2 separate regions of the Homo sapiens genome follow, and region 2 is linked to region 1. Evidence: fine-mapped expression QTL. Tissue or cell type: thyroid. Region 1 holds a variant in brackets; the other region holds the start of a gene. All regions are shown on one strand. Distances are from middle to middle.

Region 1 (4,266 bases):
ATCCGCTGTCCTTCTAGCACCTTCAAGGAGTGTGTCACAACAAGACAGACTGGCAGCCCATGAGAAGGATGGAATTACAAAAGAAACTGGTCCCCAGCTGCCTAGCAAGGAATGTCTGTCAATGTGACATTCACAGAAGCCCTGCACATGTGCTGGCTGAGGGGGAGAGCCAGCCTCAGGCAGACAGAAGGAAGTTCAGCCACTGGGCATGTGTTAGCATGGGGGATGTGTAGCCTAGAAGCTTCCTGGCTTTCAGTTATTATTATTTTTTTTTAACTTAAAAAAAAAAAACTCCAGATAATTCCCATACTTGTTTTTTACCTTTAAGGAATGTATTTGCCTTGGAGGTGCCATTACTGAATTATATTGACGCAGTTCATTAAAAATCTGCTTAGTATAAAACTGACTTGGGTCTAAAAAAATTAGGATTCTACTAAATAAATGCATCCTTTTTTGTTGCATTGAAAAACATTCTTAGTACTGTTATTAATCTTTTCACACCCCCCTACCCTTTGCTTGTGTTTCTGATTTACTCTGCTGTGAAGAAAGTTTTCAAGGTTTGTTACAGTGGAAAATGTTTTGGAAAAAGTTCTGGGTTGAGGGTAAGGAATTTAGAGCTTAGGAAATGAAATTTGGTGAACCTGATGAGCTCATTTGCCATTTTGTACCTCAGTTCCACTTTTCTGGAGCTAGAATAACTGTTCTTTATATACTAGTTAATAAAATCAACAGGTGTTTACTAAGCACTTACTATGTGCCAGTACCATAGGGCTGTAAAGGGAAGTGATTGGTCTCAGTGTTTCTTGGCCTTTTTTGGGGGAATGGGGGAGTACAGCTTATAGACCTTTGAGAATGATAAATTCCTACGCTGTCCTGTATGGTAGCCACTAGCCACATTTGGCTATTACAATTAAAGTTAATTATTGTTAAATATAATTTAAGAAGTTGGTTTCTCAGTTGCAGTAGCCACATTTTAAGTGCTCAATAGCTACATGTAACCAATGGCTACCACATAGAACTCAAATATAGAATGTTTTCATCATCCTAGAAAGTTCTGTGGGACAGTGCTACATGGAGATTCTCCCCAGAATAAAAACACTTTTCTGCCCACATACAATATTTTGCATACAACTGTTACAACTTTGCAGGATCAGGGTCAGGAGGTGGAGGTTGAGGGGGCAGGGAGGCAGGAGTTCACTGATCCCAGAAGCCCATTAATCCAAGAAAAGGAAGCCCTGATATAAAAAGCTGTTTGAAGACTCCATCACAGAATTTAACAAGTTAGTAAAAATAAAGCAACCGAGCTGCTACAAATACAGTATGTTCACTTGAAGTAACTTCATATAAAATCAAGCCCTTGTGTTCCCACCTGTTTGGGCATATTCAAAGAAAACACCAGTTCATTATCTAAAAGTTATTGAAAAATAATGTTAAAGATTTTTTGCAGTCTCTGAAAAAAACACCAGAGGGGAATTATATTCACAATATACTGCAAATCTTGAATTATCTTTCCCATTTTTCTCTTCTCATCCTCCCACACTTGACACTTGCTTTCCTAAAGCTCACCCCCAATTCCAAACTCTCTTCCAAACCTCCTAGTTCTGCTGCTGTTTCTCTTCTTCCTCCCCTGCATGGCTCAGTTCTTTATTATGTAGCTTTCCAGAATATGTTTTATTTTACTCCATCACACAAGTACAGTGGTAGAGAATGACAGAGAAAGCTCCCAGGGTGCTGTGACCAGGAACACGTTTCCCAGTGACTCATTCCATAGCTCTCCTGCCAGGCGGGACCAGTTCCTCATCTTCTCAGATGGTCTACTCCCCCATCACTTCCTCTCTGCCCACTGATACCTAGGGCCAAGGTCTGGGAGGAGCTCATGACTGAGCCTGACAGAGAGGAAAATATTTTGCTGGGATGCCAGAGGGGACTGATGTCACAGAGAAAAGGAGAAAACCAGATGGGCAGGTTTGCAGCATGTTTTATGCCTGGCGTTGTTGGTTTTTTGTTTGTTTTAAATTTTTATTTCAATAGGTTTTTGGGGAACAGGTGGTGTTTGGTTATATGGATAAGTTCTTTAAGTTATTTAGTGGTGATTTCTGAGATTTTCATGCACTCATCACCCGAGCTGTTGTTGGTTTTGGGATTTTTTTTTTTTTTTATGTTGTTTTTTTCAGTTGGGCACTGCCCTACACTCTGGTGGAGAATAAATGGCTTGCTGTGGGAACTGCATTAATTCTTAATAGTCTGCCAACATCAAAGGCTTCTTTTCAGTTTGGTGAAAAGAAGGACAAGCCCATTTCTGTAACAGGATCTCACTCTGTCGCCCAGGCTGGAGTGCAGCGGTGCAATATTGGCTCACTGCAACCTCTGCCTCCTGGGCTTAAGTGATTCTCCCCCCTCAGCCTCCCAAGTAGCTGGGACTATGGGTGTGTGCCACCATGCCCAGCTAATTTTTGTATTTTTTGTAGAGACGGGGTTTTAACATGTTGCCCAGGCTGGTGGTGCCTCAGCTCCTTCTCTCTTCTTCCCTGCTTGAACTCCTTGCCCCAGTCACACCAGTAGGGATTTTCCCTGGTCTGCTACTCTCTCTCCTATTTGGGTGATTTCTCATGGTGTC[C/T]TTTTTTATGTTTTGAGACAGAGTCTCACTCTGTTGCCCAGGCTGGAGTGCAGTGGTGCAATCATGGCTAACTACAGCTTCAACCTCCCAGGCTCAAGCAGTCCTCCCACCTCAGCCTCTTAAGTAGCTGGGACTGTCAGGTGCCGTGGCTAATGCCTGTAATCCCAGCACTTTGGGAGGCCGAGATGGGCGGATCACTTGAGCTCAAGAGTTCGAGATCAAGTAGCTGAGACCACAGGTGCACGTTACCATGCCTAGATAATTTTTTAATTTTTTTTTTTTTTTTTTTTTGAGACAGAGTCTCGGTGTTGACCAGGCTGGAGTTCAGTGGCGCAATCTCGGCTCACTGCAACCTCTGCCTCCCGGGTTCAAGCAATTCTCCTGCCTCAGCCTCCAAAGTAGCTGGGATTACAGGTGTGCGCCACCACCTCCGACTAATTTTTGTGTTTTTAGTAAAGATGAGGTTTTGCCATGTTGACCAGGCTGGTCTCGAACTCCTGACTTCAAGTGATCCACCCACCTTGACCTCCCCAAAGTGCTGGGATTACAGGCATGAGCCACTGGGCCTGGCAATTTTTAAGTTTTTTGTAGAGATAGGGGTCTCACTACATTGCCTAGCCTGGTCTCAAACTCCTGGACTCAAGCCATCCTCCTGCCTCAGCCTCCCAAAGTGCTGGGATTACTGCCACTGCACTCAGCAGTCATGCCCTCATTTTTGTCTGAAATGCCCTTCCCTCTTCCCCCTGGTTAACTCCTACTGGTTCTTCAAGACTCTAAACATCTCCTCCCAGAAGCCTTCCTTAGAATCTCTAAGACTGTGGTAGGTGACCCTCCGATGTAGTCTCAAGCAGCTTATCCTTATCACAACTGTACTCTACATGACCGAATAGCAACCTATATACACAACTCAAGGACAGAGCTGTATTATTGCATGCCCTGGGCCTCATACAGGACCTAAATCATAAATAATGTTGAATATCTAGATGAACAAAAAGTTTAAAAGGTGTCCCTGCCTAGAGTCTCTGGCCTTAGCAGAGAATGGAACCTATGAACCCTTTGAACATGAAGTCATAATTGTGGTCTCATTTGTGTTCTAACTGCAAAGGTCAGTACAGGAATAAAGGGGGTTTCATGGATGATCATAAATGCCTCCTAAGGATTTAGCTGTGCTCTATCTAATCCAAGAAGCCTGTACTAACCACATCCCTACATTTTCTGCTGGGTAACTGAACTCCTTTGGAGATTGTATGCTGCAGGACATTGCACAATTAAAGCTGAATTATTATTATTTGCAAGCAGTTTTCCACCTACAGTCCTATTGAGTCACTTAGCTGACTCTATTTCTCTCTCCCTAGGAGACTGCCCAATTGTCTCCAACAGCACTTTTTTTTCCTTTTTTGTCTTTCCAGGCAACAATCACATAGGAGTGGTAGGACTCAGAGAATGGTATTAATACACCTAAGCACACCACCCAAAATGAGAAGGCATCTGGACTTTCGGATGCCTATAGGATATGTAAGCTCCTATAAGGCTGCACACTTAGACTCGAGATCATATTTGGCCAGGGCTCTTTCCTGCTTGTCTAGAGAACAGCTAGATGCTTTACATAATCCAGAATACAACAGATAGTTATAATGGTTTTATTTTAG
Region 2 (4,139 bases), 28 kb after region 1:
CTGGTCAACATGGTGAAACCCTGTCTCTACTAAAAATGCAAAAACTAGCTGAGTGTGGTGGCGGGTGCCTGTAATCCCAGCTACTCCGGAGGCTGAGGCACAAAAATCACTTGAACCTGGAGGGTGGAGGTTGCAGTGAGCCAAGATCATGCCACTGCACTCCAGCCTGGGTGATGGGGCAGGACTCCACCTCAAAAAAAAAAAAAAACTTTCTTGAGGAAGTGGGAGGCTGAGGCAGGAGGATTGCTTGAGACCAGGAGTTTGAGACCATATGGGGCAACATGGCAAGACCCCGTTTCTACAAAAATTTTAAGTATTAGCCAGGTGTGGTGGTGCACACCTATAGTCCCAGCTATTTGGGAGGCTGAGGCAGGAGGATCTCTTGAGTCTAGAAGTTTGCGACCAGCCTGGGCAACATAGTGAGACCCCGTCCCAAAGGAAAAAGAAAATTGCAAAGTAGAGAAGACATTTGAAAGAATCAAACACGGCCAGGTGCTGTGGCTCATGCCTGTAATCCCAGTACTTTAGGAGGCTGAGATGGGTGGATCACCTTTGCTCAGGAGTCCAGACAAGCCTGGGGAACATGGCAAAATCCCGTCTCTATCAAAAATACAAAAAATTAGCCAGGCCAAGTGGCACGCGCCTGTGGTCCTGTACTTGGGAGGCTGAGATGGGAGGCTCTCTTGAGTCTGGGAGGTGGACATTACAATGAGCTGAGATCATGCCACTGCACTCTAACCTGGGTGATAGAGTGAGACTCCATCTCAAAAACAAATAAAATAAAAATTCAAGGCAGGAATAAAACAGTAACTACATAATGAGCTCACATTTTAATAAAAGAGATATAACAAATGAACAAAAGTCCATTAAAATGTTAGGGAAAAAACCCAATAGGATGAGTTACTAACTAGAAGGGGAGAAGGGATTTGGAGTGGTTAGGAGAGCCCTTTCTGAGAAGATAAGCTGAGACCTGTGCCAAGAGGGAGGCAGCCATGCAAATACTGAGAGGAAGGAAAAAAACGAAGGGCCAGTGCAGAGATCTAGAGAGGAAAAGAACTTGTCTTGCTGGAGAAGCAGTCAAGGTAGCCAAGGAGAGTACTGAGAAGAGTACGTTGGAGTGAGTAGGTAGGGACTCTATGGAGTAGGGCCTTAAAGGCGATGATTAGGCCAGGCGCGGTGGCTCACACCTGTAATCCCAGCACTTTGGGAGGCCGAGGCGGGTGGATCACGGTCAGGAGTTCAAGACCAACCTGGCCAAGATGGTGAAACCACGTCTCTACTAAAAATACAAAAAAAATAAGCCGGGCCTGGTGGCAGTCGCCTGTAATCCCAGCTACTCGGGAGGCTGAGGCAGAGAATTGCTTGAACACGGGAGGCGGAGGTTGCAGTGAGCCGAGATCGAGCCACTGCACTCCAGCCTAGGCAACACAGCGAGACTCCGTCTCAAAAAAAAAAAAACAAAACAAACAAACAAAAAAAAAAACAAAGGCAGTGATTAGCAGTTCGGGTTTTGTTTCCACTTACACTAGCGAGAGCATCAGTAATGAACAAGGGGAAGAGTGAAGCCACTGACTCGCGAGGTGACTGTGGGCAAGTTCCTGAATCTTGCTAACACTCTTTAACCCCCTGGAAAACTGTTCGCTAATCGTCACATTAAACGGCTGCGAACGGGCCACGGTCAAGGCTTCGGGGCTGCAGCCGCGAGTTTACCTGTCCTCCAGGACCGATTCCATGGGCTCCACCCCGTCTGTGTCCACGGCGCGTAGCCGGTCGGCGAAGGCGATAGCTTTCTCCAGTCGCGCCACTGCCTCGCGGCTGCCGAAGTCCACAAGCGCTAGACGCTCCAGGTGCTCGATCACCGCAGCCGTGATCCGGCCACTGCCCTGGAGGAGGGATGAGGCGGGGAGTGTGGGTCACCGGCGCTCCGAAGTGCCTCCCGGCTTGCTCCGCCACCCGCCTAGATGGCCCTGGCCTTTACCTGAGGATCCGCCTTGGAGGTGAAGCCCTGGCGCCCGCCCAGAGGGGCCCGAAGGCCCAGCCACACCAACCGCGACCACATTTCTTCCTTCCTTGGCCCCCGCAGTGCGCCCGCGCGTAACGCCGAGCGACGCGCCTGAGAGTGATGACATCAGAGTGCGCCGTCGTCGCCGCCGCCACCACTGTCGCCATGAACAGTGTGGGGGAGGCATGCACGGACATGAAGCGCGAGTACGACCAGTGCTTCAATCGCTGGTTCGCCGAGAAATTTCTCAAGGGGGACAGCTCCGGGGACCCGTGCACCGACCTCTTCAAGCGCTACCAGCAGTGTGTTCAGGTGAGCCCTCCCGCCTCTGTTCCCAGGCCCTGCATTCTCGGCGCTGTGTCCCACCACACTCATCGTATTTTACGGGGATTGGGACTGGACTGGAAGGGTGGAGAAAAGTCGCAGTGAGGCCAGTGGCAGGAGCTCGCTCCCCTACCATCACCACCGAGGCCACTTGGGTGTCTCTCCGAATGACAAATATTGGGGCAGTGCTTTTCAAGAAGCACAGTCACATCCTTTGGTTCATTTGGTGTTCACCCTAAACTCGCAAGGTGGGCATAGTTACTCATATTTTATACATAAAAAACTAACACCCAGAAATAGGAAGTGATTAATCCGAGTTCACTAGCATCAGGTTTCCTTGGTTCTTTCGCAGGTGGTGCACTTTTCCACTATTACTGCTGGGGTCTGGGCGGGATTATACTTCAGAATTCAGACTGGAGGGTCACATTTTTTTGTTGTTATAAACCCTTCGTTAGCCTGTTTCTCTCTCTTGACCAGTCCCCGCAACTGCAGCCAGGAAATGTTTATTCTGGCCCAATGGATGTGGAACTGCTTTGAATTGTTAAGAACAGCACCGGGCAAAGCACTTCCAATAAGTTAACCCAACACATCCTCACAGCAATTCCCCGAGGTAGTTGCTGTCTTCATCCCATTTACAGTTAGTCACATAGCCAGTAAGTCCTGGAACCCAGATTTGAACCTAAGTCTTTCACTAACACAAAGTGATGATTATTTTTCAAATTTCACTTAATTTTAACGGTTCCCTCACAACTCCTTTTCCAGTCTCCCTCAGGTCTTACACTTGATTTATTCATTATGGTACTTCTGGTTTTTATTTATTTTTGAGGCAGAGTCTCACTCTGTCTCCCAGCCTGGAGTGCAATGGCACAATCTCAGCTCACTGCAACCTCCGCCTCCCAGGTTCAAGCTATTCTCATGCCTCAGCCACCCGAGTAGCTGGGCTTACAGGCATGCGCCACCATGCCCAGCTAATTTTTGTATTTTTAGTATAAACAGGGTCTCGCCATGTTGGCCAGGTTGGTCTCTAACTTCTGGCCTCAAGTGATCCACCTGCCTTGGTCTCCCAAAATGCTGCGATTATAGGCGTGAGCCACCACACCTGACCGGTACTTGTTTTTTAAAAAGTATGTGGTTTGAATCATGGTTATAAGTCTTTATAATCAGCTTGATTTTACTTTTGTACTGTCATATTTTATTTACAAAGCTTGCAACTTAAGCTTCATGTAGGTCTTTATAATGTGTTTTCTCCTCCTACCAGAAAGCAATAAAGGAGAAAGAGATTCCTATTGAAGGACTGGAGTTCATGGGCCATGGCAAAGAAAAGCCTGAAAATTCTTCTTGACCTTGACAGTCACCTTGAAGGATTTCGCAAGTCCAGAAATTGAGGACTCTGGATTTTTGTCAACTAACTCTGTGAACATAGCCATCAGATTTGATGAGGAACTTAGGAGAGAGGAGTTTTATTTCCTCCTTCGATGTTTTCCTCTCAGTTGTAAAAGATGAACTCTTTGAGATGATTTCTCACCTGCTGTGGTATCTTGCAGGAACTGTGTGCTAAAATTGAACAATTTTTTTGAGATTATGGTTGCAATACTTGGCGTGGAATCAGCTTTACATAAATATACCTTGTATGCAAACGATGATAAACTAGTCAGGATGAGCAGAGCTGCCTGACCTCTTGATTTCTGCTGCAAAAGACATATACACTGTACTGGGGTCACTATTTATGAAAGCAATTGGTTAGGACCTCTTTTTTTCCTCTCAGGGAACTAATGCTCTGAAAAGGGATCTGGGCACAACAGTTTCAGTGAGT

What was found. PIP is the estimated chance that this variant, and not a neighbour inherited with it, causes the effect.
Region 2: GATC starts here. The variant in region 1 is fine-mapped to the expression of GATC in thyroid (GTEx, PIP above 0.99).

The regions. Positions count from the first base shown.
Region 1 is chr12:120,472,335-120,476,600 of GRCh38, reverse strand. It overlaps a transcript of DYNLL1 not described here. Among named protein-coding and RNA genes, the nearest start is that of SRSF9, 4.7 kb to the right of the region's middle. The variant C/T (reference allele first, on the strand shown) is at 2,618.
Region 2 is chr12:120,444,401-120,448,539 of GRCh38, reverse strand. GATC (glutamyl-tRNA amidotransferase subunit C) reads right to left here and starts at 2,096. Exons shown (of 4, transcript NM_176818.3): 1 at 1,979-2,096; 2 at 1,711-1,883. The coding sequence starts at 2,059. It overlaps TRIAP1 (TP53 regulated inhibitor of apoptosis 1), which reads left to right and starts at 2,156. Exons shown (of 2, transcript NM_016399.3): 1 at 2,156-2,314; 2 at 3,585-4,139. The coding sequence starts at 2,168. The coding sequence ends at 3,668. RefSeq lists enhancers at 1,281-2,126, 1,960-2,254, 1,852-2,401, 1,616-2,815, 2,127-2,974.